3 separate regions of the Homo sapiens genome follow, and all the other regions are linked to region 1. Evidence: fine-mapped expression QTL. A gene starts in region 1. Each other region holds a variant in brackets. All regions are shown on one strand. Distances are from middle to middle. Region 1 holds the start of SRBD1 (S1 RNA binding domain 1). Region 2 overlaps SRBD1 (S1 RNA binding domain 1). Region 3 overlaps SRBD1 (S1 RNA binding domain 1).

Region 1 (10,794 bases):
AATTCAATAAACAAAAAGTCAAATTAAAAATAAAAGATTTGAACAGACACTTCACCAAAGAAGATATGTGGATGGCAAATAAATGCATTACTAATACAAATTGTTAGTCATAAGGGAAATGAAATACACACATTAGGATGCCAAAAAATTTAAAAACCTGACAGCATCAAGTTCTGGCAAAAAGTGGTACAACTGGAACTCTCACGCATTTCTGGTGGGAATGCAGAATGATACAGCTACTTTGAAAAACTAAAGACACACTTATGACTCAGCAATTCTGTTCCTAGGTGTTTATTTACCCAAGAGAAATGAAAACGTTTGTCCATACAAAAACTTGTACATGGATGTTCATAGCAGCATTATTCATAACAGACAAAAAGTGGAGACAACTGAAGTCTATCAACTGATGAATGGATAAACAAACTGTGGTATACCCACACAATGGAATGCTAACTGGCAATAAAAATAAACAAACTACTGATGCATGCAATGATGTGCATTAATCTCAAATGTATTATAATAAGTGAAAGAAATGAGACTCAAATGGTTACATGCCATATGATTCCATTTATATAATATTGATATGGTTTGGCTGTGTCCCCACCCAAAATCTCATCTTGAATTGTAATCCCCCAAATCTCCATAATCCCCACGTTTCAAGGGTCAGACCAGGTGGAGGTAATTGGATCATGGGGGTGGTTCCCTCCTTGCTGTCCTCATGATAGTGAATGAGTCTCATGAGATCTGATGGTTTTATAAGCGTCTGGCATTTCCCCTGCTGACACTTACTCTGTCCTGCCACTCTGTGAATAAGGTGCCTGCTTCTCCTTTGCCTTATGCCATGATTGTAAGCTTCCTGAGGCCTCCCCAGCAATGCAGAACTGTGAGTCAATTAAACCTTTCCTTTGTAAATTACCCAGTCTCAAGTATTTCTTCATAGCAGCGTGAGAATGGACTAATAAAGACATTCTGGAAAAGGTAAAATTATTGGAACAGAAAACAGATCAGTGGTTTGCCAGGTGCTGGTGGAAGGGGAAAAGATTGACTATAAAAGGGCATTTTTTTGAATGATTAAAGTGTTCTATATCTTGATTGTGGTGATGGTTACACAACTATATGTGTTTGCAAGAATAAAAAAGCTGACTTTTACTCTATGTAAATTATACTTCAATAAACCTGACTAAAAAAATAGTACACACAAATTTGGACATAGACTGATCTGACACACCATGCTTTTCTGAATTTGAATTCCAGTGTGTGAAGGCTCTAGTACTAAAATTCTGACAATATGCATTCCTAGATGAATGTTTCAAGCAAGCACTTTGCAGGATAGTTTCAATTTATTAAGGTGGAAGATGGACCAATGGTACTAGATATAATATTTAGTTCTGAATTACAGTATCCAGACATGGCTACCTGTGGTTAGTCCAGATTTGACTAAAATAAATCTGGCCCCATTATGCTGCCATTTATCCCTTCCTTGAAACCCAGCCAGCCATGGCATCATCAGGATCTTAATGAGCCCTCTGGGGTTTCCATACTTGGATCTCAGACTGTTTAATAGATATTTTAGGCCTTTGAGATGGTCCCTGAGCACTACTGATGAGAAACTCAACAGGAGAAAAAATTTCAATATGTTTGCTCATGATTGCAACCAATTGAATGCCTCTTAGCCAGTGACTTTGCAAGGTAAGTGATCAGTGGAAGAGTGGACCATGCAATAGATATGGTATTTCATCTATTATTTATGTTTTTTATGGGTCTTAATCCTATTTATAACTGCATTCATTACAAAATACCTTAGGAATTTGTACAAAATAAGTAGGATAAAGCACTGAACATTTTAGTTTTCACCTAAAGATACAAATTATATTGTATTTCAATATGCAGTTTCCATAATTTTACTTTGTGTGAGATAAATTTGATGTATACAATCCCTTTGATTCCAATTCCTTGACAAATCTGTACAATTAATTTCCTCAACCTTAACTGATGCTTCCTCCAGATCCATTTAATATTTAATAAAGACTCAGGTTTTAATCTCTTGAATCTTTACTCTTTCATAAGAAAGACTGACAAAGTTACTCTGGCTAGAACAATGGCATCAGCACTAGTCTAGCACTTTGGAGTCATGCTGCTGTTCCCAGCTAGATTGAAAGAGTTAATAGGACAGGCCAAATTTGAGAACCCACCTACCAGCCTGGTCAGCCTCACTAATAAGAAACTCCTTTTTCATTTGGGAAACAGAAGTAGGCCCCTCTCTGTTTACTAGTCTCTTTCATTTTGCAGTAAATCTCCAGATTTCTGGCTGAATTAGTCAGAGAAGGTCATTGAAGCCAAAGAGCTTTAGTGTTTAGGAATAAGAACGTCTGACAGTGGGAAAAGAGGGGAGATAGGAGCTAATACATACTTTTTTTTTTTTTTTTTTTGAGATAGAGTCTCACTCTGTCATCCAGGCTGGAGTGCAGAGTGCAGTGGCGCAATCTTGGCTCACTGCAACATCCACCTCCTGGGCTCAAGCGATTCTCCTGCCTCAGCCTCCAGAGTAGCTGGGACCACAGGTGCCCACTACAATGCCTGGCTAATTAAATATGCAAATTTTTGAACTAGGGCTCAGTTTGTTTGCTCATTCTTTAATCTGAAACAGCCATTATTATTATCATTTTTGCCTTTGCTAGTTGTATTAGAATTCTCCAGAGAAACAGAACTAGTAGGGTGTGTGTGTGTGTGTTTGTGTAATAAATACAGCATAAAGATATATGAGAATATTTTTTAGGGAATTAGCTCACAAAATTATAGAGGCTGAGAAGTCCAGTGATTGGCCATCTGCAAGCTGGAGGGCCAGGGAAGCTGGCAGTAGGGCTCAGTCCAAGTCTGAAGGTCTCAGAACCAGAGAAGCCAATGGTGTAACTCTCACTGCATGGCCAAAAGCCTGAGAACATGGGGCTGAGAGGGTACACTGATTTAAGTCCTGGAGTCCAAAGGAACATGCAGTTCTAATGCTTAAAGGCAGGAGAAAAAGTGTGTCCCAGCTCCAAAAGAGAGAGAAAGAAAATATTCCTTTCCTCTTTGTTCTATCTGGGCCTCAGCCAATTGGATAGTGTCCACCGAAATTGGGTGAGGGCAGATCTTCCTTACTTAGTCTACTGATTCAAATGTCAGTCTCTTCTGGAAATACTCTCACAGACACACACAGAAGTAATGTTTTATCAGCTGTCTGAGCATCCCTTAATCCAGTCAAGATGACACCCAAAATTAACCATCACACTGATTGACTCTCAGAGATAAAATGTTTGAATTTTCATAAGTACACTTGATTTTTAAAATGGCAACCCACCTTCTGTGTCAAGAGCTTTAACTTACTTTTCTCATAAGAGAAATTTGTTTGTACTCTAGACATATTATTGGGTCCAGGAGTTAGTGTACTATTTTTAATGAGTACCTATTATATGTCAAGCATTATTAGGCACTGTGTGGGTGGCGGGAGAAGGTGGAGAGGGGAGGAAAATTTGTTTTTACTTTAGACATGTTTTTGGGTCCAGGAGTTAGTCTACTATATTATTGAGTACCTATTATATGTTAAGCATTATTAGGCACTGTGTAGGTGGAGGGAGAAGTTGGAGAGGGGGAGATAAAAAATTACCAAGAGTTAGTTCCTAGATCCAAATATCTATTAGTAGGTGAAACAGTTGCATCTATTAATATATTAAGAATTTTTGTTCTTATGAAACTTAGTTTGAGGCCAATAGAGAGAATAGCTTTGTTATGTTTCAGGTGGTTAGACAGTACTTTATTTAGAGTATTTAGAGATTCGACAGTTCTGGAGCACCTTAAACATTGAGAGTCTCACTGGCCACCATAGTGGAGCGAGAAAAGGTCTTTGCTTTGAGTTTGTGGTACAGCTGGCCATCTGTATCTGCATTCATGGATATGGAACCTGCAGATGTGGTGGGCCAACTTTTTCTATCACTGATTGGTTGAGTATCTGTAAATTTTGCTATCTGTGGGGGGTCCTCAGACCAATCCCCTGTGGATAGACAGCAAATTGTATGTGGATACCTTTCAGAGTACTTGCTTTGGAGTAAAGCAGATTATTGGATTTGAATCTCAGATCTACAATTTATTAGCTGATGTGACCTTAGATGAATTATTTAACTTCTTTATACCTGGTATTCTCATTTATAAAAATGGTTTAATAGCAATATTGCATTGGGGTAATATGTGAATTATATACATAAATACATCTAAAAGCATTAACTTAGTGCCTGGCACAGGTAAGTAATCAATAAAGGTAAGTTATTACTATTATTATTACATTTGCCCTGGGGAGCTAGAACCCATAGGGGAAGGACTTGAAAACAGATAATAACATACAAATGATAATGTATCAGTGAATATCATGGGAAGAGCTATATACTTTGGAGGGATAAAACAACCTCCATCAAATCCAAAACATGTTTTCATTACTCCCAAACCCTATTGCATAGTCTCAGGTGGGTGTCCGGATTATTCCAGGCTTTCAGTCTAAACCCATGAATTTCTTGGAATTCAGCACTTGAGATCCAAAAGTAAACAATAGATTGGGCAATGTCCTAGACAGAAAAGGCAGTTTTTGTGGGAGGGCCTGTTTTATACTTAAGTGATTACAAATTTTCCTTGACAGCGTGTAGTGGGAGTGACTCTCTTATAGAATTCCAAGGGAAATATTCTCTGGACAGTCCTTATTGGCCTTTAGAGTAGGCCACTACCTACATACTTTAATTTTAGAGAACCTGCTTCAGATTTTATTTTCCCCAGATGTCTGATGTCTAAAATCTTAACAGGCTATTTATTTTTGTGATTTTTTTTTTCTTCCCCAGCTGTAAGGCAAAAATCCCTTGTGGGGAGAGGAAAGTCAAGCTTCAATGCTTTGCTGGCCCACTCTTACTCTCCTCCTCACTGTAGTGTGGCTACTACCTGCATACCCAACCCTTGAAGCTAGACTGTTTTGCTTGGGTGTCTGTTTCCTCTGGCTGTATCTGGTTCCTACTCTTGGTCGTAAATTCCTCCAGGGCAGGACTTATGTCAAAAGACTTTGCAGTATATTAGTTCACCTTTACCCTTACTACCTCTGCAATGATTGGAATGTCCCCTTCAAAAATTCAAGTTGAAACTTGTCATTGTAATAGTATGAAGAGGTGGGACCTTTAGGAAATGATTAGGTCATGAATGAGTTAATTCCATTATCACAGGAGGGTTAGTTATTTCGGGAGTCAATTGGGTTCACATGCCTCCCCCACCCCTACCCCAGTATGATGCCCTCCATCATATTTTGACACAACAATAATGCCCTCTGTCTTGGACTTCCCAGCCTTCAGAACTACAAGCCAAACAAATCTCTTTCTTTATAAATCTACCAGTCTATGGTATTTGGTTACAGCAGCAGAAAATTGACCAAGACAACCCCTTACCATAAACCTGAGTAGCAAATGCAACATCAAAAGTAGGTGAATAGTAAGTAGTACATTATTGTTGTTGATTTCTATGATCTGGTTTCTCTTCCCACAATCCTGAACGGTAAGGTGTTCTCTAGTATTTCTTCAGGACCATAAATTGTGAAGGAGACTGTGATTGTAGTAGACAATTCTAGGCCTTCTGGAACCATCACTAAAGGCAACATACGACTGTGCTAATTAAAAGGAAAAAAAAATCCCTAAACAATCTCGGAAACTGATCTTTCCTGGCCAACAATCTCAGATATAGAAGATTAGATTTACTAAATTTAGAAAGAATCCTTTTTTTTTTCCCCCAATCACAAAAATTATCCAGTAAAATCTATGCTCACTTCCGGTAGATCTGCAACAAGGCACGGTCACAGGTCATTTCAATAACTTGCTAGGCTCTTCAGTACTCAGAGTCCCTGGAAATAAGTCATTAGCAGTGGAAAGCTGCTTTTTAGAATTTTCTAAAACAAATCCATGGGGTTTTGATCTGCTAAATTCGAATGTAGACAACAGCAGCCTTATTTCCCTACTTTTATAATCTAATTTATTTGGCTGTATCTGTGGGCTTAAGAGTTTAGTGTTCTTGGTAAATAACACGTAAAAAAAAAGTCATTTTTCATTTCTACGAACCAGCCCCACCCCGGCGCTCCCTCGGGATCCTCGCTCTAGCCCCGCCTCCGTCCAGCCTGGCTCCGCCCCGTTCGGTAGCGCCGCGCCTTGGAGGTCTGTGGCTAACTTGGTCCGGAAGAAGCGAGGCGGACCTTCTGGCGTTTGAAAAACTTCCGGCGGGAACCGGAAGGTGCGGTGGCACTCACGGAATCTCGGGTCTTCTGACGTGCCGGGCGGGAAGGTGAGCTGTGCGTGCGCCTTGGCGGTCGTCTTGCGGGTTCTCAAGAGCCCGGCGTCCGGGCTCCGGGATCTTTGGGGCCATTAAAAAAGTTCTGAGCGCTCATTTGGGCAATAACACCCCTTTTTTAAAAGTGAGAAGTTCATTACATTTTACTGTCAGCGGTCTCTCACAACCGACCACCCGAAAACCCCTCCTAGCTACCTCGTGACACCTCTTTTCAGCCAAATTGCTGCAGCTCTTAGCGCATAACAGACATAGAAAAGCCTGGGCAAGCCTGTTTTTTTTTTTTTTGAGACGGAGTCTCCCTCTGTCGCCCAGGCTGGAGTGTAGTGGAGCGATCTCGGCTCACTGCAAGCTCCGCCTCCCGGATTCACGCCATTCGCCTGCCTCAGCCTCCCGAGTAGCTGGGGCTACAGGCGCCCGTCATCACACCCGGCTAATTTACCTGGATTGTTTTTATACCTAAAATTATCGGAGGTGGGAGAGGAAGCACCCTTTTCACGGTCATGGTGGCCCTGTCTGAATCAACTGCACCTTCTGTAGTGCGCCTGGCATGTAGGAGGCGCTCAGTAACCGGAGGAAAGGAATGAATTGGGAACTCTCTAGGCAACTTTCCTCGAACCCCTCACGTGACATGTCATTAACATATTGTGTGTGGAATGGGAAACGAGACTAGTCTTGGTGTTCCAGGCACTGGGCTATAGTCCTTTGCCACATATCTTTCCCCTTTGAGTAAACTGTTTCACCTCATTGGGTCTCAGATTTCTGAATATAGCGGGACTGTCTGATCTCAGGTTCTTTCAGCTCTAGTATTTTGTTTTTGTGACTTGGGAATCTGCTAACATTCAAGCACTCTGTTGGTCCTTCATGGAAACTTGTTTAGGTGCTTCTTAAGAAATTGTCCTCCTTTGTTTGCCTTCTTGAATTTAAATTTTTTTTTCCAATTTTAATTTAGTATTTGTTAGTGTGCACGTCCTTTTGCCCCTTTGTCCTGATTTGCAGTCGTCCTAGTTTAGTGGCTCTTCCCTTAGTAACATCATAGCAACCTCCAAATTATTGGTTTGGAATATGCTCATGTGCCTACAGTGATTAAGATAGTTTGAAAGGAGGGAAAAATCCCAAGTCACTGAAGAATAGGAATATTCTTATGTGCCATCACTTCTTCAGAAAGAGATGAATGCAATGTGTGGCATTGCCTAAGAGTGGTGGAAAATAAATGTATATTCCTCTGTAGAGACCATATTTGTACATATTATGTTCATTTAATAGTTGTAGGGCATCTGTTAAGTGCTAGGTTCTATGATATGGAAGTGAATAAGGCACATGCATTTCCTTCTTTCATGGTATTTACTCTCTTGACAGCAGTGCAAGCAATAAACAAGTAAAATAAAAATAATTACAGATTGTGTTATAACCTACTGTATACAGGAAGTAAATAGGCTCCTTTTAAAATATAATTGAGAAACCTATTTTAGGCCTGAAATGTTAAGATCTAAGGGATGCAAGGAGCCAGCCAATTGACAAGCAGGGGGAAGAATACTCCAGGCAGAGAGTACCTGAGGTGGGAAAGAATGTTATGACAAGAGCTGAGGAGCTCCAGCAAGTAGTAAAGGTGGTTAGAAAGGTGAGCAGGGCTCAGTCCGACAGGGCCTTTTCAAAGGCCTCATAAAAATGTGGCTTGATTCTAAGTGAAGGATGGGGTGGGAAGTAATTCGTTGTTTCTAAAGCATATTCTAAATGATCTTGAGTTGATAAGTGGAGAATGAGTTGCAGGGGCAAGAGTGGAAGTAGGGAGGGCAGTTAAGAGGCGAGTGTGGTAGTTCAAGTGAGGGAGGTTGAGGACTAAAGGCTCACTGAAGATCGTGGAGATTCAAGACATTTTGGAGGAGGATCTTATGTGACTTACTAATAGTCTGGATATGTGAGATGAAAGAAAAAAAGATTTGTAACATTTTGACTTAGCAAATGGAACTTTGGAGGATGATAATGTGTTCATTTTCTTGATTGTAGTGATATGTATACATATGTCAAAACATCAAATTTGCACACTTTAAACATGTGCAGTGTATTGCATGTCAATTATATGTCAATGAAGCTGTTAAAGAATTTTCTGGCCAGGCGCCATGGCTCACACTTGTAATCCCAGCACTTTGGGAGGCCGAGGCAGGCAGATCACCTGAGGCCAGGAGTTCGAGACCAGCCTGGCCAACGTGACGAACCCCGTCTCTATCAAAAATAGAAAAATTAGCTGGGTGTGGTGGTACACGCCTGTAATCCCAGTTACTTAGGAGGCTAAGGCAGGAGAATTGCTTGAACCTGGGAGGCAGAGTTTGCAGTGAGCTGAGATCACTCCAGGCTGGGTGACAGAGTGAGACCGTCTCAAAAAAAAAAAAAAATTTTTTTTTTCAAGGTTCTGGCTTAGCAAATAGGTGGGTGCCACTTATTGAGATGGGAAGGACTGGAATAGGAACAGGTTTTAGAGCAAGAAATGGTCATCAAGAGTTCCATTGTGGATGTGTTAAGTTAACTGTGAGACATCTAAATAGTTTCAGAGACAGGCAGTTTATTATAGAAATCTGAATGTTAAAGGCACGGTTTGGGATGGAGGGATTAGGATTGTTAATAAGTAGGTGACATCGGTATGTAAAACCGTGGAGATGGATGAGGTTTTGGTTAATCTAACAAGTTTTATGACACAAAGTAAGAGGATATGGGAGTAGTGGAGATGGAGAAACAGGCCTCAAGAATATTGGTGTTTAAACTGGAGAATACATACTCCTGGGGGTGTACCTGTCGTAGGTAGTTTTAAAGACATAATTTCCAAGTCTTCAGCTTTTGTATATATTCTTTCTAAATCTGATCTGCTTGAAATTGGCTTGTGTGTTCATGCAGATTCTGCTTTCCCACCTTTCCTTTTACATTGATATTTTTAACATTTGTGAAAAGAAATATTACAACTCACTCATCTTTCCATGGTATATTGCTTTCGGGGTGCCTTATAAAGAGGCAGTTGGAAATATTTGATTTAGGGGAGCCTTCTTTAAGGATAATGGTTAAGCAAAAACATAAGCCTGCCAAGGGTTTGCCTGTCCCTATTTTAAACACATTTCTGTTAAGGCTGAAGTGTGGAGATAGAATTAGTATATGGTAGTCTGTGTGGGAATGTTCTGAATTCAGGCATATTGTAGAATGTGGTGGTAGGAGTGATTGTAAGGTGATCTGGGTGGGTTGTTTGATGGGAAGCTTAGCACCTTCAAGTTTTTACTCTTGGACTGGTTAGATTCTCCAGAGAAAAGCCTTCCCATTCTCCTCCCTAGAGGGCAGTATTTTAGGAATTTAGTGGCGGAAGACTAGGGTTCTCTGCCTTTAGCATTCAGTCTGTATGGTTCCCATGCCCACAGTCTAGACTGTTTCATTAATACCTTCTCCAGAGAATAAACTTACAGTCTTTTTCCTGGGGCAGTTGCCTAATAGCATGAAGTGAGGTAGGACACTTAGAGATATTCCTTTGTCAGTTTATACACAGCCCTAACCCGTTTCACCTTTAATTCCAAAGGTATCAGCTACTGCTTCATATGAATTTTTTTTTTTTAGAATACTGCAGGGTAAATTGGTTTGGTTCTCATATGCTCCCACTACTGGCTTGGGATTTTAATTTTTATGTGTTGCAATTTGTTAGTCTTTTTGGTTTTGGAATTTTGAGGAGTCATATTTAGGAAAACCTCCATTTCCCCATCTCCCCTCAATAGTGTGAAAAGAATCACCTTTATTTCTTAGTTCTTTTATAGTTTTAATTTGTACATTTTAAACTATTAGTTATTGGGGAATAAATTTTTGTTAATGGTGTGGAGGTAGGAATTAAACTCCTTTTTTTCTTCTAGAGGAATAGCTAGTTGTCTCAATACCATTTATTGAATAATCCATTTTTACCCTGCCCTGATTTTAAATGCCACCCTTGTCATACACTAACTTCCTCCATTCTTATTTTGTTGTGGTAAGATACACATAATATAAAAATCACAATTACCTGTTCTTTCATGATCAATGTCTAAAAAATACTAATTTGAGAAAGGATGATCTTTATAACCTAATATGCCAAAAAGAGAGTGAAGGGAAAGATGGAAGATTATCCTGTCTACTTCCTGCAGACTGCTTTCCTGTTGTTCTTTTGGTTCCCTCTGAGCACTATTTTGCCCAATCATTGTGTACTTACTGGACTGAGTTGAGCTATAGCTGCTGGGAGAACATATTCCCTTTTGTGACAACCCCTTTAGTATTTCCATGAGAGATTATTTCCTCTTCTAAGCGGATGTTAGAACCAGAGGCATTATAACATATGACTGGGTCAGAAACTTGTTTAAAGGGTTCCAAACATGTCAGAGCCTAGTGTAGTCCTTATAGTTTGATGGTTTTATGGTAATAATATCAGGCAGCCACTTATAAAGTCCTTTATTAATTAAT
Region 2 (10,794 bases), 66 kb after region 1:
AGTAATGATGTTTGGACGGAACCTTCGTCAGCTCCTTTTAACAAGCCCTGTTCCAGGGCGCACCTTAATGGGAGTGGATCCTGGTTATAAACATGGTTGCAAATTAGCTATAATTTCTCCTACTAGTAAGTTGTCTTGCAATTTTCCATGTAAAAGTTGTTTGGTTGGTTATAAGTTTCACTTCATACATTTCATGAGGATTTGGAAATAATGTTAATTTTAAAGGCTTAAAAAGTGGTTTTCTCACATACAGGGGTGTTGGGAACCAGATAATCAAACTTCATTTTTCTCTCATTTGTTGATCAAACTCCTCAATATACAACTATCATTTATATGCTTCCTATATCTCAGTAGAGATATTGAGGATTAATTAGGCTCGGACTTGAACTCTATTAATTCCCCATCAGATTCTATTATTGTGATGCATTTATATATGATGCATTTTAATTCTGCTTATATTTTAAATACCAAAAGACATTTTTATTGTTTTGCTCAATTTTTTTTCCTGTTTACTTACATTTACACTGATATTCTTCATTTCTTTTGCATTTCCGTGCTTCCATTTGAGATCATTTTCTTTCTGCCTGAAGAACTCTATGCTATTACTTTTAATGAGTCACATTGTCTTAGTTTTAGTTTGTCTGAAAACATCTCTGTTTTGCCTTCATTTTTGAAGAATATTTTTTGCTTGGTGTAGAATTCAAGATTGGCAGTTACTTTCAGTACTTTAAAGATGTCATTCTTTTTTTTTTTTTTGGCTACTGTAATTTTTGTTGAGAAGTCAGCCAAACTGTGGTTATTTGTTATTGTTCCTTTGAAGGTAATATGTCCTTTTCCTCTGGCTGCTAAGATTTTCTCTTTGTGTTTCTCAGTTTTCTTATGATGTGCTTCAGTGGGTGTGTATGTATGGGTTTTCTTGTCTTTTCTTTTCTGCATGAATTCCACTTAGGGTTTGTGGAGCTTCTAGCATCTCTTTCTGGAACTCCAATTACATACATATTATACCTTTCAGTTTCTTCTCTCCTTTTTGTTTATTTTCTGTTGATCATCTAAGTTAATTAATCCTCTATCCTGCTATGTCTAATTTGTTACTAAAACCATCTACTGGGTTCAAGTGGTTGGTTTTTCAGTTTTAGAATTTCCATTTGATACTTTGAAAAATAGGGTTATAGCTCCCTATGAACTTCTTTATTTCTAATGTTTTTGATCTTTTAACTTCTTGTTTTATTTTCTATTAGCCTTTACTATTTTAATTTTTTAAGTTTAGATTTTCATTTCTGAAATAATTTTTTCTTTCATCTCGAATTCATTCCCAGTTTATCTCATCTAATTTCTGAGATTTTCTAATTTTGACTTATGTTATTCTTTTATTTATTTAACTTTTACTGAGTCAGGGTCTTGCTCTTTTACCCAGGCTGGAGCACAGTGGCGTGATCTCAGCTCACTGCAGCCTCTGCTTCCTGTGCTCAAACTATCCTCCCACCTCAGCCTCCCGAGTAGCTGGGACCATAGGCACGCACCACCATGCCTGCCTTTTTTTTTTTTTTTTTTTTGTATTTTTAGTAGAGACGGAGTTTCGTCATGTTGCCCAGGCTGGTCTTGAAATCCTGAGCTCAAGCTATGTGCCTGCCTTGGCCTTCCAAAGTGCTGGGATTACCAGCATGAGCCAGAATTAACGTTACTCTTATTTTCTGTAATGTTTTTTTTTAAGAAGCTTGTTCTCATACATTAGGCACATCTTTCTGTAAGGACATTATATTAGTCTTTTAAAAATTTTTTTGCTTAAAAAAATAATCATTCTATATAGAATTTGACTATCATGCATTTCTTTTGTTTAGTTTTACATACGTTAGTTTGAACTTTTAGTAGAAGCTGGGTCAGGCAAGTTGTTCTCACTGTATATCTCTAGAACTTGCTCTTCTGTTTTTTCCAAATCATTAAAAAAAAAAACTCTGTGTGGATTGAGAGATAGTTTATAGTTTCTGGAATCTGCTTCTCTGTTGCTTTCCTTTATTTTATCTGGGCTTTCTTTTTCCTTTGCTGTTGCTATCTTTACTTTGCTCAGTTTGAATGTGATTACCAATTGTTTCTCCTCAGTGTGGAATTTTTGTCTTTAAAGGTATCTTTTACTAGTTAGTTTCAAGAGTTCATAGGGATCAGTGTTTTCCAATCCTTTCAGAAGTACTGGATCCCCTTTGTGCTGAATCTCTCTCAGTTTCAGCTCCTGTTCTCAAACTGACTGTTGAGATTTCCAGGGAAGTAGCCTTTGACATTTTTGGGATTCTCCTGTTCTCAGTTCCATCATATATTCCACTGTTTCTTTCTGCTTCCTTCCATGCAGATGCTGATGCATAGGTGTCTTGTCAGTACATTGTTCCCACCTGCTTTTTTGGAGGGTGGGGGTTTGTGGGGATATTTTATCTATGTTCTAGATATAGTCGTGACTTTTTGTTTTTGTTATCCTAGTTGTCTTTTTATGCTGTTCATTTTACAGCCAGTGGGAAATATATTTTATCAGTGTTTTTTTTTTTTGCATCTGTTCATATATCATGTGGCTTTTGTCCTTTACTATGTTGCTGTGATTAATTATATTACTAGAATTTTTTAAAATGTCAAGTCACACTTTCCTTAGATTAATGGAACTTGGTTATGATACTTTCTTTTGGGTGTGTTGTTAGATCAGTTTTCAGTTATTGTATTGCTTATAGGATAATTGTTCTAAAAATGTCACAAACACATCTATATTCTTAAGCTGTTTTGGTAAGATATTTCTAATTATCTGTTTTCATAATTTAATATAAAGTTGTTTATAATGGTAGATATCTTTTAAACCTGTGTTCAATCTCTAGTTATATCTTCTTTTTATTCCTAATATAATTCCTGTATTTGTATCTTCTATCCTTTCTTTTACTTGATTGGTATTGCTAAAAGTATGTTTTTCTCTTAAGTGATTTGTAACTACACTTTGTTGATCTTTTCTGTTGCATTTTTTTCTGTTAATTTTTGCTTTTAACTTCAACATTTTCTATCTTCTGCTTTCTTTGGGTTATTTTGCTGTTCTTTTCCTAACTTGTAAGTTAGTCTCTTAGCTCAGTTTTATTCTTTAGGTAGTTATCTTCAAATTTTAAAAAATACTTTTAATCAAAATAATTTTAATTATTTTAAATTTAATTGTTATAAATATTTTCAATAAAAAATATTTTTCTTTATAATGCAATATAGAAAAGCTCATAAGTCTTAAATATGCACAAGGTAAATAAAGTCATGTATCTACAACCAGAAAAAAAGAAATAGGATAGTCTCACAACAGTGTCTGACATATACTAACAATTCAGTTAGTGTTTGCTTTTGCTACTATTAATGTTAGATGTTAGTGAAAACCATTTTTCTTTTAGGTATCCTAGCATATTCTCCAATTAATAGTAGTTTTGTGTAGCAAACAGAATCCTGTGAAATTGGAAAGAGCAATACTTCAGAGAGGTTAGGAAGAATCTGATTTAGTGAATATGAATAGTTCAGACTTCATTATAAAAAACAAGCCAGTCTCCTTTTCTGTTACAACTTGCTTAACAAAATCATTCATGTGTTTCACTTTGTAATTTCTTATAAAATGGCTTATTCTTTTCATTTTTTAAAGGTCAGATACTTCATACTGATGTGGTTTACTTGCATTGTGGACAAGGCTTCCGAGAGGCGGAGAAAATAAAGACACTTTTGCTGAATTTCAAGTATGAAAATAAGTAATCTTTTGAATATATCAGTGGCTCAGTCAACCAGAGATACCTTTGAAGCCCCTAATTTGGAGGGAGGGATTAAGGGAGGTGCCTTTGTGAGAGACAATAAACCATATAAAACAGTTCTGGGGCAAATTGCTGGAGAACTCTGCATGTGGAGACTTGAGAAACGCTGCTCCCTTCCTTTGCCACCATTACAAATAAAGGAGGTAATATGGGCAGATGTGAGCAGTTCATTCTTCTGTTCCAATTTTCTCCCTCTCTCCCTGCCTTCTTTCCATCTGAGGAATAGATGTGGTTATAGTTAGAAGTTTCAGAAATTGACAATATATTATATAATTTAATCATAATATCTTTATTACGGCTTAGATGGCTTAGAATGCTCCAGAGTTGACTTATCTCTGATTTTGGTTCCTTCTTGATGGGAAGAAAGCTGACTTTTTTGAGATAGTGTGACAGTAAAATACTTCTCTGCTGCCTCCTATACCAAATGCAGGGCAGTGTCTTTTATTCCATATAAGTCTGTGTTTTCCTTATGCAACAGTGGACAGGTTGCTTGTATATATGAGAGAATAAGAGAATCATATAATAGTATTTGTGCATTCTGTACATTTTCTCCAGCTGATTTCAAAGCATGCCTTGAAATTCAGTTTGTCATTCTGTTTCTGCCTTGAAGCTGCAGCACAGTAGTGATTGGAAATGGAACTGCCTGCAGGGAAACAGAAGCTTACTTTGCTGACCTGATAATGAAGAATTATTTTGCACCACTGGATGTTGTTTACTGGTAAGGCTATTACATATATCTCTTTTCTTGGAGAAGCATGGGAACTTTAAAGTTGCTTTTGTGATGAATCCTCCCTTCTCTTTTTAAGATGTACATCTTCTTTGCCCTCCAGACCACCTCTTGGTGTTCATGAGAACTTTGCAGGATAATGTAAAGTGTCTGACTCTTGGAGAAATTTGAGACAGGAATGATTAGAGCAGGACAGAGTCCAGAAACCTCTTACAGAAGCAGCACGTTAGGGCTCAGTTTCATTGGATTTTCTAGGCTATACATTGTGTGAGGGTTCTAGTTAACTATTGAATAATAAGTAGAATGATGTACCAGGCTAGCAGCTAGTAGACTGTGAATAACTTAGCCTT[T/C]TTCTCCCAAAGCTTTGAAGCCTATGAATCATTACCCTTCAGAACTGAGAGCCAAGGTAAGTATTATGAATTAAAAAGTATTTCCAGTATTCTTTCCTCATTTATCCCTTGGTCACAAACTTTTATTTCATATAGGCATACAGATAACTTGTGAATAGCTTTGGATTAGAAAGACCCAATTTCTCTAGTCTTGCCCCTGCATTTGTAGTAGTTCTGCTTTCTTTCACCATTGTTTCCCTACTTCCTCTTTGGATCTCAATAGTCATGTCTTCCTTTTCCAAACTATAGTAGAATATTAAGTCCTAAAGGATTTAATTCTAGGAGAGAGAGTAGTTATAATGGCTGATATTTAACAGAAAGTGATCAAGAGCTATCTCCCACTGCTAGTGAGAAAACTAATAACTAAAAGAATGGTTGACTGATGAGCAGGTGACTGACAGGATCAACAAAGTAACAGAAAGTAAAACCTAACACAGGAAGAATTCTAGGATTTGTGTAGGTAGGCCAAAAGGTAAAGGCCAGGCAGTTATTATAGTCAAGAGTGCCAAGAGTGTAGTCAGAGTCAGTCAGAAAAACAAACTCAGGGTAACAAGGGGAGTAAGAGAAGGTGAGGAACAAACCGATAGGTGCCATGGGATCATGATTCAAGAAGGAAACAGATTGAAACATCCACTGCAGAATTTTTCCCTCTTTCTCTGGTTGTAATTTAAGTTGGCCTGGGAAATACGGTGGATCTTCCCTATTCTGGGAACTGCAAACGTGCACCCAGTCCTTTTGAGAAACTAACACAAGCACTGATGTAGCTGGTTCAGTTTATTTCAGGTACCTTCTCTGATTTTTTTTTAACTTGTTCACATTAATTTCATGTAAATATCTTGCATACATTTGTAGTGGTTATAAGTACAACTTTCAAATCATAAAAAATATTAAGTAGTGAAGATGTCTTCAGTTTTTTCTTCATTTGCTTATAGAATATCCCTTTATTGAACTTTAGGCAGTATGTACTATTAGAAAGGAAAGGATGAACTGTGGGGTCAGACAAATCTGGGTTCATCTGTTTTTTTTTTTTTTTTTTTTTTTTTTTTTTTTAATTGAGACAGAGTCTCGCTCTGTCACCCAGGCTGGAGTGCAGTGGCACAATCTTGGCTCACTGCAAGCTCTGTGTCCCAGGTTCATGCCACTCTCCTGCCTCAGCCTCCCGAGTAGCTGGAACTGCAGGCACCCGCCACCACACCCGGCTAATTTTTTGTATTTTTAGTAGAGATGGAGTTTCACCGTGTTAGCCAGGATGATCTTGATCTCTTAACCTCGTGATCCGCCTGCCTCAGCCTCCCAAAGTGCTGCGATTACAGGCATGAGCCACCGCGCCCGGCCTCATCTTTTGTTTTAATCATTTACTAGTTATGTAGGTTTTGAAGAGTTACTTAGCCTTTCTTAGCTTCACTTTCCTTCATTTTTAAAATGGGGAAAAGAATACCTACCTTACAGGTTTTTTAACAGTATTAAAAGTGAGATAACATAAATTAAAACACTAAGGGTTTAATAAACAATATGTTTTTTTATGAGTGTGTTTGTATTTGTTTATATACGTACTTTTATTATAAATATAAATTATATGTCTTTAAAAGTGCTGTGAAATTAGATGCAGTATTTTCTTATGCAAATTAATAAACTTACATAAAGTTTATTTTCACCTTGATGCAATAGGGATGATAGTAAAATCTACCACTTTGGATAGTAATAATGTCTATCGTACTTGTGTAAAATCTATGTATTGTGGTATCATGAGATGTTCAGTCTTATTAATGGATATGAATTAGATGCCATTTTAGTTGAGCCTCACCATAGGTGCTGTGGTATGAAGTGAAGTATGTGGGCTATAGAGACGACCTAGGTTCAGGCCTGCCACCTACTGCCTCTGATTAGCCATATAGTTTTAATCCTCTTTTAGCTTTAGCATCTTCATCTTTGGAAATGTTACTTACCTGTTAGCACCATTGACCACTGTGAAGATTTAAAATGGAATGTGTTATGTATCTCCTATTTTTAAGGCTATTTGTAGTAAATATGTTAAGTGTGGGCTAATCTTTGAGTTTAGGGAGACCCCATTAATATAAATTTTTTTTTTTTTTTTTTTTTTGAGCCGGAGTCTTGCTTTGTTACCCAGGCGGGAGTGCAGTGGCGCGATCTTGGTTCATTGCAAGCTCCACCTCCCAGGTTCATGCCATTCTCCTGCCTCAACCTCCCGAGTAGCTGGGACTACAGGTGCCCGCCACCATGCCTGGCTAATTTTTTTATAGTTTTTAGTAGAGATGGGTTTTCACCGTATTAGCCAGGATCTTTGGTGCCTTCTTTGCACTTTTATGAATATAGTCTCTATTAGGCATTTTCTTTCAGAAGAGCCCCATTTTGTTGCAATTTAAGACTTGCTTTGGATGGTAGTCTTTCTCCTATAGTCTGTTTTCTCCTTTCTGCTATAATTATTTGGGTTTTAAAATCTACCCGTGTGGTTAATTATGGTAGCTATTTTCTACAGTTGAACCATTTTTGCAGTTCTGATTTAACTCTACTTACACTGTATTAGTCTTTTAATGTACTTTTTGCATTTGTTTGCTAATATGTGCTTTTGAAGTTTTTAAATGATGCAGATATCTAATTGGAATTTATAGCAAGTGCTTTAGAAAAATCAGCTGTTTAATTTCATTTTATTATCATTTTGCCAATTCAAAGTGCCTGTTTGAGAAAACCATGTTTTCTCATCTTACACTTTGAAGTTACACTGAAATTGAAATCTCCAGTCTTTCTCTGGCAGCCATTTTTAATACCTTCTGAACAGATAATCTGATAGGTTAATCTATAATCTTGTCAGCCACTCATCCTGAAAAACCTTTTCCAGCCATATCTACCAGCACATTTCCTCTTATCTGTTCCTTCCAACACTCTTTGCCCTGACATGCTGCCATAGGTTAACAAATGCCATGATATATATCCTAATTCATAAACCCCAGGAAACCTGACCCATTCATCTGTCTTTTCTCTCATTCATTTCTCTCCCTACCCTTAAAATACCTTACGAATCATGATACTTACACATATTAGGGGGCAAGTCATCCAAAGGTGCAAATTCTAATTACCAAAGGAGCAAAAAGTTAAACTGGAGTTAAGTTGCAGAATGTAACCATGCTGAGTCTCAGTTATCACATACTGAATTGTGATAGTTGAAGTTGAAATGTTCATGAAAAAATGAAAGTTGAAAATGTTCGTGAAAAATTCTACAGTTTTATGGGTCATTTGTTTAAAGTATATGCTAGAATGGTTTGCAGTTTTCAATCTTTTGACATATGGTAGGCACTCATTTTGCTTTTGTAGTTATACATTAGTTTGTGTTTTTTAGATTTATACATAATGAAATCATACAGTGTATAATCTTTTATTGGCTTCTTTCATGGAGCATGATTATTTTGAGATTTCATCCTTGTTGCTGCAGAAACCAGTGGTTCTTTTTATTCCTGAACAGTATTCATTGTTTGGCTGTATCACAATTAGTTTATTCAATCACCTGTTGATGGATATTCGAGTTGTTGCTAGTTTTTTGCTACTACCAATAAAGCAGCATGAGCATTCATTTACAAGTCTGTATGGATATATGCTGTCATTTCTCTTAGGTAAATAGCTAGGTGTGGAAAGTCTGTGTTGTGTGGTATATGGTATACGGTACATGTTTAACTTAAGAAACTGTCAAGCTTTTTCCCAAGATGGTTGTACCATCTTACTTTCCCACCAACAATGTATCAGAATTCTAGTGGTGGCAGTGGCAGCCCATCTGGAGCAGCTGCTGGGAAGACACTGGCTGCAGCAGGGGAGTTGTGGCTTGGGTTGCATGCTCCACAGGTGATGGGAGCCCCACCTCCTACCAGGTTAGTGGGGCAGAGGAGCCCCATGCTCCTGGGCGCAGTTGCAGCTGCCCAGCTACAGCTCTGGACCTGGGCATCCCTGCACTCTCAGGGGCCTGCGATGCCCCTTCCCCTGCAGGCTCGGAAGTACCTGCTCCACCTCCCTGGCCTCTCCCTGCTCCCAGCACCCGCTCCAGAACAGAGCAAAGTTGTGGCCGAGCCTAGGCACTGTTGCGACCTGGACAGGTGTGCCTGCACTCGAGGCAGTGCTGACACCAGCCCCTGCTGCCTCAGCCTGTTCAGGATTTTGGGCACCAACCAACACAGGAGTGAGGCTGGGGTGGGGTGATGGCTAAGGGCAGCTTGGCACAGGCCTACAGGTGTCCCCTGGCACAAACAGCCCATGCACCATGGATGCATGCTGATGGTGGGAGGCAGACATTCCTGTGCAGCAAGGGGCAGGTCTCAGTGAAACCCCCACCTCCAAGCCAGGGCCTACGTGAAGTCTGGAGGCCAGGTTGCCAGTTCTGGGTGGAGTCTGTGGCCGGGAGTGTGAACTTATGGTACTTTTTCCAGACATGCCCATGGCTGCCCATGGACCAATCAGCATGCATTCCTCCCTTCTGAGCCCATAAAAACCCTGGACTCAGCCAGACTGACACAAATGTTGGGACTACCAGCTATGGGAAGGAGCCACCCACTTTGGGTCTGCTCTCTGCTGAGAGCTGGACACTTGTCAGGAGACCTGTCTGCAGAATGGGGCTACCCACTGCCCATCTCCTCTCCACTGGGAGCTGGACACTCATTGGGATAACCTGCCTGCAGAAAGGGGCTACCCACTGTGGGTCTCCTCTCTGCTGAGAGCTAGACACTCATTGGGACAACCTGCCTGCGGAAAGGAGCTGCCCGCTTTGGGTCTTCTGAGAGCTGTTCTGTCACTCAGTGAAGTTCCTCTCTGCCTTGCTCACCCTCCAGTTGTCCACATACCTCATTCTTCTTGGACATGGGACAAGAACTCTGGTTCCACCAAATGGTGGATCTGAAACAGCTGTAACACAAACAGGGCTGAAACATGCCCTCCTGCCTGCCATGCTGCAGACCTTGAGAAGGAGAAAAGAGCTGCAGCCCTTTGGGGAGCCCAGACCTAGGTGCTCCCTAAGCCAGGGCTATGGCACCCTCTTTGGGACTCTCTGGTTCCTGGCATCTCCCACCTTCCAGGAACCACTGTGTTCCCCTCGTCCAGATGTGGGTGTCTGCAGTGGTAGTTGCATGTGATATATCTGGTCCAGCCACAGCCTTGCATGGCACCACCTGCCCTGCCACAGCTGGCACGCCTAGCTCTGCACAGTGGCCGGACCCTGTGCTCACTCACACACCGCTCACCGCACTACGCCTGGCTCACCCTTGGCAGGGTGAGATCTGGGCCAGTAGCACCAGCCAAGCACAGCCTGCCAGCTTGAGTGAGTGGAACGAGCCCAGGGGGCCTGAGCAAAACTCGGACAAAGGCACCACTGGCCACAGAGGTGTCTGGCTGGAAAAGTGACACCCTAAGGATTCCGTAACACTAGTTTCTCTGTATCCTCAATGGAATTATGAAGTTATGGTCAGTGCTTGGTATGGTCAGCCTTTTAAATTTAGCTGCCCTAGTGGATATGTAGTGATATCTCATTGTGGTTTTAATCTGCATTTTCCTAGTGATTAATGATCATGAGCATCTTCATTTGCTTATTTGCCATCCATGTATCTTCTTTAGTGAGGTATCTGTTCAAATCTTTGCATTTAAAAAAATGGATTGTTTTCCTTGTGATTATTGAATAAGAGTATTTTTATTTATTCTGAATTAAGCCCTTTGTCAGGTATATGTTTCATAAACATTTTTTCCCAGTCTGTGACTTTTCACTTTTTTTTAAACAGGATCTTTTGAATGGCAAAAATTTTAGTTTTGAGAAAGTCCAATTTATCAATTTTTTGGTATAGTTTTTGCTTTTTGTTTTCTATTCTGGAAATTTTGGCAAAATCAAGGT
Region 3 (10,794 bases), 44 kb after region 1:
TCTCTCTCCCTCCACATATCTAGCTGTTTGAGCTGTGCAGAGGAGAGGAAAGGAGGAGATGACCTAGTTGACTACTGTTGCTAGAAAGAACTTTTGTATTTTCTCAGTGGCTCCAGCAGGAATGAGTTGAAGCAAAATAATTGCTCAGGTTTTAAAATGTGTTTTTATAAGTAATTATGCCACTTAAATTTGGTTCAGTATTATAAATTGTTATTGGAAGCTGTCCTGACACATCCTTTTGTTTCTCTTTTTTTAAGTTTTTAATTGACTGTGACTGTCTTAGTGATTAGAAAAGTCTGATATTTAGATCAGAGCTATTGGTTTGATTTCTATAGATAGTTTTGATCTTTTGCATAATTGCAGATGGTTTCTGAATTCATTTAGGCATTTTATGGGAAGATTGAGTAGATATATAAATAGATCTGGAGGACTATGCTAGTATGAATAGGCAAAGAGTCCTTTTGATGGGGTAGTAATATCAATTTCATAGCTGGGCATCATTAAAAAAACTCACTTGGTAATGGCTTAACTTTTTTTGCTATCCTTATTTCTATATATTCTTTACTAAAGCACAAATTAATAACTGCTTGTTTTTTGAACACTTGTGTATCTGAACAGGTGCCAGAAGAGACATGTTTGTATCCAGTCATCTCTGGCAAAAGTATCCTCAAAAAAGGTAAATGAGAAAGATGTTGATAAGTTTCTGCTCTACCAGCATTTTTCCTGCAACATAAGAAACATTCACCATCATCAGGTAAATAAAGAAACTGCATGTGCATGCTGATTTCGTAATAATGATAATATTTTGGATTTGCCTGCTACTTTACTAAGAATTTAAATAATTTTATGTCAACTGTTTTCTTTTTTCTTTATATAAATTCTTATAATATTGTCATATCCTTGCCGCTTCACAAATTGGGAAGTAATGACCCGGAGAAGTTAACAAGTGACATTGAGAATTATTAGCAGAGCTGACAATATAACATTTTAGGTATCTTGACTTTTTGGCTGGTGATCTTTTTGTTAGACTCTGCTTCCCAGTATCCTTATATTTGAGCTCAATTCTGGATCTCTTCCCTGTGAAATACAAATATGAGATATCTGATTTAGAATAAAGTGTGAGAGGTCTCATTTACTTATATAAATCAGTCATTGTATCTCAGTGTTTTAATTTCATTTTTCAGTTTACTAATTTTTTTTCCTAAGTGTAGTCGTAGGCTATATCTACATTGTGGAATGTGGCTTTTAAATTACATAGGGCAAAAAGGAGATAAAAACCAAAAATACAGTAACACTGGCGTTTATATTTACATATATCATGACATTTATCAGTGTTCTTTATTTCTTTGTATGGCTTCAAGTTACTATCTAGTGCCCTTTCATTCCAGTCTGAAGCACTTCCTGTAATATTTCATGTAAGGCAGGTCTACTAGTGACAAACTTCCTAGTTTTTGTTTTTCTGGAAAATCTTAATTTCTCCTTTTTTAAAAAATTTATGTTTAATTGTGGTAAGATGAACATAACATAAAATGTACCATCATAACCATTTTTAAGCATACAGTTCAGTAATGGGAAGCATAGTCATATTGTTGTGCCACCAATCTCCAGCAATTTTTTTATCATGCAAAACTGAAACTCTATGCCCATTAAACATTTCATTCATTTTTTTATAGAGAGTTTTTAAAATATAGAATTCTTGGTTGATGGTTTTTAATTTTTCCCTTTTAATACTAAATATACCATCCACTCTTATGGTATGGCCTCCATAGTTTTTTATGAGGAATCAGCTGTTAATCTTACGATGCCTTATTCATGACAAGTCTCTTCTCTCTTGCTGCATTCAGGATTCTCTGTCTTTATCTTTTGACAGTTTGATTATAATGTGTCTTGTCATGGGTCTTTCTGAGTTTATCCTACTTGGAGTTTATTGTGATTCTTAGACGTGTAGATTAATGTTTTTCATCAAACTTAAGAAATTCTTCATAATAATTTTAAAAAATATCCTTTCTGCGCCTTTCTCTCCTCTCCTGGGTCTCCCATTATATGTAGAGAGTATGATTGATAGTGTCTCACAGGTCTCAGCCTCTGTTGCTTTCTTTTCTTTATTTTTTTCTTTTTTCTCTGACTGTATATTCCCATTTGACCTATCTTCAGGCTTGTTGATTTATTCTTTGTATTCAAATTTGCTGTTGAACCCCTGGCACATTTTTATTTCAGTCATTGTACTTTTCAGCTCCGTAATTTCTATTTTGTTCTTTTTTATAATTTCTAACTCTTACTTTTCTATATGGTTGAAAGATCATTCTCCTGGCTTTCTTTAGGTCTCTGTTCATGATTTTCTTGAATTCAGCATATTGAATAGAGTTAATTTAAAATCTTTGTTTTGTAAGGTCAATGTCTAAGCTTCCTCATGGACAGTTTTTTTTTTTTTTTTTTTTTTTTTGGTAAAGTCTGGATATGTTGTATTTTATAACTTGGTAACTCTGGAAATCAGATTCTCTCCCCTCCCCTGTTTGTTGTTGCTGCTTGTTTTGGGGTTGGTTTGCTCTAGTGACTTTTCTAAGTATTTTTGTAAATTTTGTTTGCTATGTGTGGCCACTGAGGTCTCCCTTGTTAGCTTAGTAACCATCTAGTTATTTAACAGAGATTCCCCTAAATGCCTGGAGCCAAAAACAAAAACAAAATAAACCCTAAAAGAAAAAAATCCCCTAAAAGAAAAAAACCCAAACTCTCCCAGACTTTGCAGATTGGCACTTTGTTGGGGCACTCCTTCAACACTTAGTGAGGCCATTAACAGCTCTGCCGTAGCCTTTTCTTCCTGTTTGCATGGAGCCCAAAGTTCATCTAGAGGTGAAAGCTTAAGGTTCCCTCAGATCTTTTCAGAGCATACACCTAGCCCTCAGCATGCCCAGGAATTTTAAAAAGCCCCTTTTCCCTCAAATATCTCATTTCCAAGTTTATTTTTTCACAGGTTTTTTGTTCTCTGTGTTAGTTGCTCCTGTATTATCCCTTACCCCTCATGGCTGGGGCTAATATATTTGCCTTTAAGTACTTTTGACAAAGGCCACCTGGGAGGCTTCTTCTGTCCTGAGTAAGTTCCAAGGCATGTGAAATAAAGACAAGCCCTTGAGTCAGTTCCTCAGGGACACACCAGACATCAAAACACACAACCATAGTTATTTGAGAATAAGGTCCATATTGCTCCTTCTGCAACCTGCCCTAGGAACGTGGGCTGTCATCTTCAGAGGCCACTGCTGAGCTGGAGACTGGGGTACGTTAAAAGTGCTCTCTTATAGAAATTCTGCAACTTCTTTCTGTGTTTCTTTCGTTGTTATAAAATTTTTATTAGATTCCATAGTTGCGAAAAAGTTAATTCTGACAGTTTTTGCTACCTTACCAGTTACCTTTGTGGAGGGATGGAATTTAGAGTTCCCTACTCCACAATTTTCAGTGATGTCACTCCTAACAACGTCTTTAAAATACAGTATCGCACACTCCTCATTCTATTCCAGAGCTGGAGTGTGGCTTTTAACGTTATATAAAGTTTTCTTTATTACCTTGTTTAATGCTTTTTATCCTGAAGTCTGCTTTGGTATTAGGATTGCCTTGCAACCTGTGCTTTCTTAAAGGAAATTGACCCCACTCTCCCTACTCTTGTTTTAATCTCAGCCCTACAATTATATTAAATGCTTGCCCTTGGTCCTTTTGCCAGAGCTTTCCAAAGCCTTTAGAGTGAATGAAACTTATTCTGTAGTCTAGTATACAGTTGGTAAACTTTTTCTGTAAAGGTCCAGTGAACAAATATTTAAGGTTTTGTGAGCCAGATGGCTTTTGTTGCAACTACGCAACTGCTGTGTAACACAAAATCAGTCATAGACAATGCATAATGAATGAGCATGGTTGTGTTTCAACAAAATTTTATTCACAAAAACAGGTGGCAGGCTGGATTTGACCCATGGGCCATAGTTTGCTAACTTCTGCTCTAGTGAATGTCTGAAGAAAGGTATATGTGTACAATATTCTCTGAGTTCTTACACATTCAAAATTGTTTTCTATGGCCTTAACACTTGAAGGATAGCTTGGCATGGTATAATCACTTTTGTTTGCATTTTCTTTACTTAAGTTTCTTGAATATGTTGCTCTGCTGTTGGCTTCCTTTGTATGTTATATTTGAGAAATCTGATGCCAGTATAATTCTCTGTCTCCTAGAAATGCAAAGAGGTGGGTCCTATGTTGTGTTTTATTTATTTTCTTTATTGGTTTTATAGTTTTTTGAGAAAGGAAGGGGGAGATTTGAAATTAGGAAACTGCCAGTGTTTTTCAAACGCGGAATTTCTCAATAAATAATTTTAAAATTTATTTTTCTTCCTATCTGCATTTTACTGCTATAAAGAGAGAATAATAGAAAAAAAACTAGTATTCCTAACCTTTCATGTAATACTTAATTTTCATCATTAAGAATGTAATTGTTTTGCATGGTGGCACATGCCTGTAGTCCCAGCTACTCAGGACCCTGAGGCAGGAGGATTGCTTGAGTCTAGGATTTCTGGGCTGAAGTGCGCTATGCCGATTGGGTGTTCACATTGAGTTTAGTATCAATATGGTGACCCCACAGGAACGGGAGACCAGCAGGTTGCCTAAGGAGGGGTGAACTGGCCCAGGTCAGAAAAGGAGCAGGTCAAAACTGTGCTGATTAGTAGTGGGATTGCTCCTGTGAATAGCCACTGCATTCCAGCCTGGTCAACAGTGGGACCCTGCCTCTTAAAAAAATAAAAAAGTAATTGTTTTTCATTTAAGATGACACAGATGTGAAAAATTTTTGTTTTGTTGTAACAAGACATGAAGAGTGTGAATTATCCCACAAGTATTTCCTGAAAGGTTATTTTATGTTGGGTCCTGTTTAGGGTGTAGAGGTAACATGGCCCTTGCCCATTTAAAGATTTGAAATGTTTCACTATTATATCTAAAATTGTCAATTTTACTTTTGTGTACACTATATTTACCACATCAGGTGAAGTACATACTTTCAATATTTTGAAAGAAAGTACAGTGAAATTTTACATACGTAGTTATTATAGTCTACTGATACAGGTATAACATAATGAAAAGTAATTTTTAATAGTACCAGTGACTAAGTATACTAACATTCCTTTTGCAGAAGTAGTTTTTCTGTCTTATTTTGTCCACCTTTTATGTTGATTTAATTTTATTGCAACTTTGGAAAAACATTAATGCTTTTATTCTGTTAAAACCTAGCCTTCTAATTTCTGCTTGAAAATATTTTATTGGGCTCTGCATTTTAACTAGTGTGTGTAGCAAATGTGGCATTCTGAGTTAGTGACTGAATTTAAGATTATGATTGACACAGGCTTCTGGGTGTGACAGTATTCAGGCCTGGGAAAGCAGAGCATTTTGGAAATGTCAGTTTTGAAAAACAGCACTGCTGTTTTACGAACTTTTTAGTTTATCATGTACAGGCCGGAGTGATGATATGCTAGGTTACAAAAACAGCTTCCCAATTCCTATAGTGCTGAGACCTCATGTCCTAAATCTGAACCTTACTTTTCAGCCTTTATGTAGATAACCCCAGCACAGTATCACAGAACACAGAAATGAATGCAAATGATGAAAGACAGTGTGGTGAAGGAAAATTACTGTGGAACTCTCTCCAAGTACTGTGGGAATAGCCGTTAATAGCTGCTTAGTAAATTCTTCCAGCTGCATCTTTTTTTCTTTCTTTTTCAAATTGGTCCTTAGTGTGATCTTTTCTACCACATGAATTTGTAACTCAGTCTTCACATTCTCTCATGGGACTTTCTGTTCCTTATCTTTATTGGTGTGTCTTTTTACTGACGTGCAATTTCCTGTGTCTTAACTACCTATTTCCTGTTCAATGTCACCATCTGCAGTAATTCCGCTTTAACCCACT[A/G]CTCACTTTCAATTTCAGTTTCTGTCCCAAGCTTTATTATTTCTGTTACCTTATTCCCTTCTCCACCATGGGTCTTCCTGTGTGTCAGGATTTTTTGTAAGTTTGACGTATTACATTACTAGGTATGGTGAAAAAGAGCAAAAAACCTCCAATAATGTATTGTGATATTATGGTATACTTATGTAAATCGGAATTAAATAACTCTCCTCTATATTGTTGTACTCTACTTAATTTATTAGAGAAAATTTCTTGTATGAAGAACTTCTGTTTACTAAGCTGGCACAGCCTATAGCAAATACGGAAGTCTCTGCTGAGCTCAAACTGAAGTTTATTTTGTATTCACAATTTATTTCTTTATAGATAGTTCTGTGCAGTATTATTGAATATATTGTTTTATGTAAGCTTACTTTTTTTTTTTTTTCTTAGACAGTATCTTGCTCTTTCACCCAGGCTGGAGTGCAGTGGCAGAATCCCACCTCACTGCAAGTTTCGCCTTGCGGGCTGAAGGCATTCTCCCACTTCAGCCTCCTGAGGAGCTGGGACTATGGGCATGCACAAGCACACCTGGCTGATTTTTGTATTTTTTGAGAGTTGGGGTTTCGCCATGTTGCCCAGGCTCATCTTGAACTCCTGAGCTCAACCAGTCCTCCTGCTTTGGCCTCTCAAAGTGCTGGGATTATGAGCATGAGCCCCCATACCCAGCCGAAACATTTATTTCTAAGTGATTGTTCTATTTCTGCTGATGTTTACTTTAGAAATTTCTCAAGTATATAAGAAAAGAAAAAAGTCCCCTATATAATTTTTTTAAAACTCTGACAATTTGTTTGATATTTAAAATTTTACTCAATATTTTTAAAATTTAAATTAAAGTTACAAAAAAATACGCGTTTTATCTTTTGACATTCTTTTCAACATGAAGCACAAATTGAGAAATTTTCGTGGTAGAATTATTTTGTGGTAATATTAAGTTGAATTATTCTAAGCTTGTTTCACCACAGATAGGAAGTCTAAGTTTTTGTTAGAGATCCTCATGGAAATGTGCTAAAATTGTTAAAATATCAGTTTGTGTCCTGTAAAGGGAGAACTTAGTTTATTAAAATCCCATTCATTAAGAGTAATTGGAAGAAAGCCATTAAGAATTAGTGAGAAATCTGAATATATGTTGAAGTGATGTTGTTTAATTTTTAATATATAATATACATAAATATATAGTTACAGACTAGCAGATATTTAAGGGAGGCTGTTAACTTGATTAAATTATTTGGTTAATTTGTGTTACTATTTATCATCTTAATAATTGGTATTAAAGAGTGCTTTAAGAAAAGAGTGTTTTAATTTTCTAATAGGTTTATTGAAGTAAAATTCATATTGCATTTAATGCAACCATTAGAACTTTGTAAGTTCAATGGTTTTTCGTAAATTCACTCAGTTGTGTCACCATTACCACAAGCAATTTTAGGACATTTTTCTCCCAAATATTTCCTTGCATCAAGCTCTAGGCAGCCAACTTTCTATCTCTATAGATTTGTCTGTTCTGGTCATTTCATATAAAGGAATCATACAATATGCAGACTTTTGCCGCTGGTTTCTTTCACTTAGCATAATGGTTTCAGAGTTTGTCTGTTATGGTATGTATTAGTATGCCTTTCCTTTTTATTGCTACGTAATATTACATTATATGGATTCTCCACATTTTACTTATCCATTCATCAGTCAGTGAATAGTTTGGTTGTTTCTACTTTTTGGATATTATGAATAATGCTATGAACATTCGTGTCTAAGTTTTTGTGTGGACATATGTTTTTATTTCTCTTGGATATATACCTAGGAGTATAATTGCTGTGTTATATGGTAGCTTTACATTTAACCTTTTGAGGAACTGCCATATTTTCCAGAGTGGCTATGCCATTTTTACATTCTCACCAGCGGTTTGTGAAGGTTCCGATTTCTCTACATCCCTCCCAACATTTATTGTCCATCTTTTTGTGTTTTGATTTGCATTTCTCTAATGATGCTGAGCATCTATTCATGTACTTATCAGTCATTTGTATATAATTTTTGAACAAATACCTCTTCAGATCTTTTGTACATTTTAAATTGGGTTGTGGCCAGGCGCGATGGCTCACGCCTATAATCCAAGCACTTTGGGAGGTTGAGGCAGGCGGATCGCCTGAGGTCAGGAGTTCGAGACCAGCCTGGCCAACATGGTGAAACCCCATCTCTTAAGAAAATAAATAAATGAATAAATTGGGTTTTGTCTCCTTATTGTTGAGCTGTAGGAGTTTTAAATATATTCTAGATACCCTTATGTGACATATGATTTGCAAAAATTTTTGTCCCATGCCGTGCATTTTCTTTTCACTTTCTTGATACTATTCTTTGAGGCACAAAAACTAAAATTTGTTGAAGTTCAATCTAGTTTTTTGTTATTGATTACACTTTTGGTGTTATATCTAAGAAGGCTTTATGACTTGAGGTCATAAAAATTTTCTCCTTTTTTAATGGAAATTTTATAGTTTTAGTTCTTGTATTAAGGTCTAAGATCAATTTTGAGTTAATTTTTATGTATAGCGTGAAGTAGGGGTCCGTCCACTTTTGTTCTTTTGCATGTGGTGAGTTCTAGTTATTCATGATTTATTGAAAAGATTGGATTTTCTTCATTGAATTATCTTGGTACCCTTGTTGAAAATCAGTTGACACTATATGTATAAGTTTATTTCTGGACTCCGATTCTATTCCATTGTATGTCTATCCTTATGCCAGTCCCCACTGTCTTGATAACTGTGGCTTTGTAGTCAGTTTTGAAATTGGGAAGTGGGAATCTTCCAAGTTTATTTTGATTTTTAAAAATTGACTTGGCTATTCTCAGTCCTTTGAATTACTATATGTGTTTTAAAATTAGTTCACCAGTTTCCACAAAACATGCCAATTGGGATTTGATAGGGATTTCACTGAATTTGTAAATCAACTTGGGGAGTGTTGCCATCTTAGCAATATTAGGCCCTCTGATCCCTGAACATGGGATGTTCATGGGTATTTATTTAGATCTTCTTTAATTTCTTTCAACAATGTTTTGTAGTTTTCATAGTACAGTTGTTCCTTGGTATATACAGGAGATTGATTCCAGGATCCCTGCATATACCCAAATCTATGTATATGCAAGTCCCAGAGTTGGCCCTGCAGAACCCATGTATATGAAAAATCAGCTCTCCTTATGCGTGGGTTTCAGATCCTGCAATTACTGTATTTTCAATCCCTGTTTGGTTGAAAAAAATCCACGTGTAAGTCAACACATGCAGTTTAAACCTGTATTGTTCAAAGGTCAACCGTGTAAGTTGTGAACTTTTTTTGTTAAATTTATTCCTAAGTATTTTATTCCTTTTGGTGGTATCATAAATGGAATTAAAAAAAATTATTTTCAGAATGTTTATTGCTAGTATGTATAAATTAATTTTATTTGTTGAGCTTGTGTTCTGCAACTTTGCTGAACTCTTTATTAGTTCTAATAGTTTTGTAGTGGATTGCTTAGAATTTTCTATATATAAGATCATGTTAGCTGCAAATAGAGAAAGTTTTACATCTTCCTTTCCAATATAGATGGCCTCCCTTCTTTTCCCTGGCTAGAACCTTCAGTACAATGTTGTGAGAGTGGACACGCTTGTCTTGTTCCTGGTCTTTGACCAGTAAATATGATGTTAGCTGTGAGATTTCTGTGCACAAGCCCTTTCTCATATTAAAGAACTTTCCTTATATTTCCAAGTTTTTTGAGTGTTTTTTATCATGAAGGGCTACCTGATTTTGTCAGATGTTTTTCCACATCTATTGAGATGATCATAGGATTTTTGTTATTTATTCTATTGATATAATGTGTTAGGTTAATTGATTTTTTAGATGTTAAATCAACCGGGCATTCCTGGAATTGATTCTAGTTGATCTTGGTGTATAATCCTTCTTATATATTTCTGGATGTGGTTTGCTATTACTTTATTGAGGATTTTTACATCTATATTCATAAGAGATATTGGTTTGTAGTTTTCTTGTGAAGTCTTGTCTGGTTTTTGTATCAGAGTAATACTGGCCTCATAGAAATATATGTGAAGTTTTTCCTTCTCTAATATCTTTTGGAAAGTTTGTGAAGAATGGATATTGATTCTTTTTAGAATGTTTGGTAGAATTCAATGGTGGTGCCATCTGGGCCTGGACATTTATTTGTGGGAAATTTTCAAATTACTAATTCAGTGTCCATACTTTTTATAGGTGTGTTCAGATTTTCTGTTTCTTTTTGGTTTGTTTTTGGTAGTTTGTATCTTTTAGGAATTTGTCCATTTTATCTTAGTTATCTAATTTGTCATACAGTTGCTCATGGTATCTCTTATAATCTTTTTTATTTCTATAAGGTCCTTAGTAGTGGCCTCTCTTTTGTTCCTGATCTTGGTGTTTGAGTGTTTCCTGTTGTTTTTCTTGATTAGTCTAGCGAAAGGTCTGTTAATTTTGTTGATATCTTCAAAGAACCAACTTATGGTTTTGTTGATATTTATTGCTTTTCTATTCTCTATTTTATTTTTACCCTATTATTTATTATTTTCTTCTGCTTGTTTTGGTTTTGTTTATACTTTAAGGAGTGTTTTTAATGTGTTTTAAGACAGTCGTTCTTTTAATATTTTAATTAAGAGCATGGACAGATTGATCTGAAGTTTAAATTCTTTTTTTGCTACTTGCTAGCTTTGTGATTTGCAACAAGTTAGTTTCAGAAAAATTATTATATAAAGTGAAGATAATACACACATTACTGGTGACTCTAAGGATTACTTGAGATAATATATTTAAAGTGCTTAGATAGGCTCTACAATTAGTAATGCTCAATG

What was found.
Region 2: its variant is fine-mapped to the expression of SRBD1 in whole blood (TOPMed, PIP above 0.99). The same link has a PIP of 0.9 or more in blood mononuclear cells.
Region 3: its variant is fine-mapped to the expression of SRBD1 in whole blood (TOPMed, PIP 0.99).

What each region holds. Positions count from the first base shown.
Region 1 is chr2:45,606,758-45,617,551 of GRCh38, reverse strand. It overlaps SRBD1 (S1 RNA binding domain 1), which reads left to right and starts at 6,285. Exons shown (of 21, transcript NM_018079.5): 1 at 6,285-6,333. RefSeq lists an enhancer at 6,465-6,634.
Region 2 is chr2:45,540,456-45,551,249 of GRCh38, reverse strand. It overlaps SRBD1 (S1 RNA binding domain 1), which reads left to right. Exons shown (of 21, transcript NM_018079.5): 12 at 1-125; 13 at 3,638-3,728; 14 at 4,411-4,518. Among named protein-coding and RNA genes, the nearest start is that of SRBD1, 65 kb to the left of the region's middle. The variant T/C (reference allele first, on the strand shown) is at 4,878.
Region 3 is chr2:45,563,167-45,573,960 of GRCh38, reverse strand. SRBD1 (S1 RNA binding domain 1) reads left to right here. Exons shown (of 21, transcript NM_018079.5): 9 at 619-754. It also overlaps the pseudogene RN7SL414P. Among named protein-coding and RNA genes, the nearest start is that of SRBD1, 43 kb to the left of the region's middle. The variant A/G (reference allele first, on the strand shown) is at 5,930.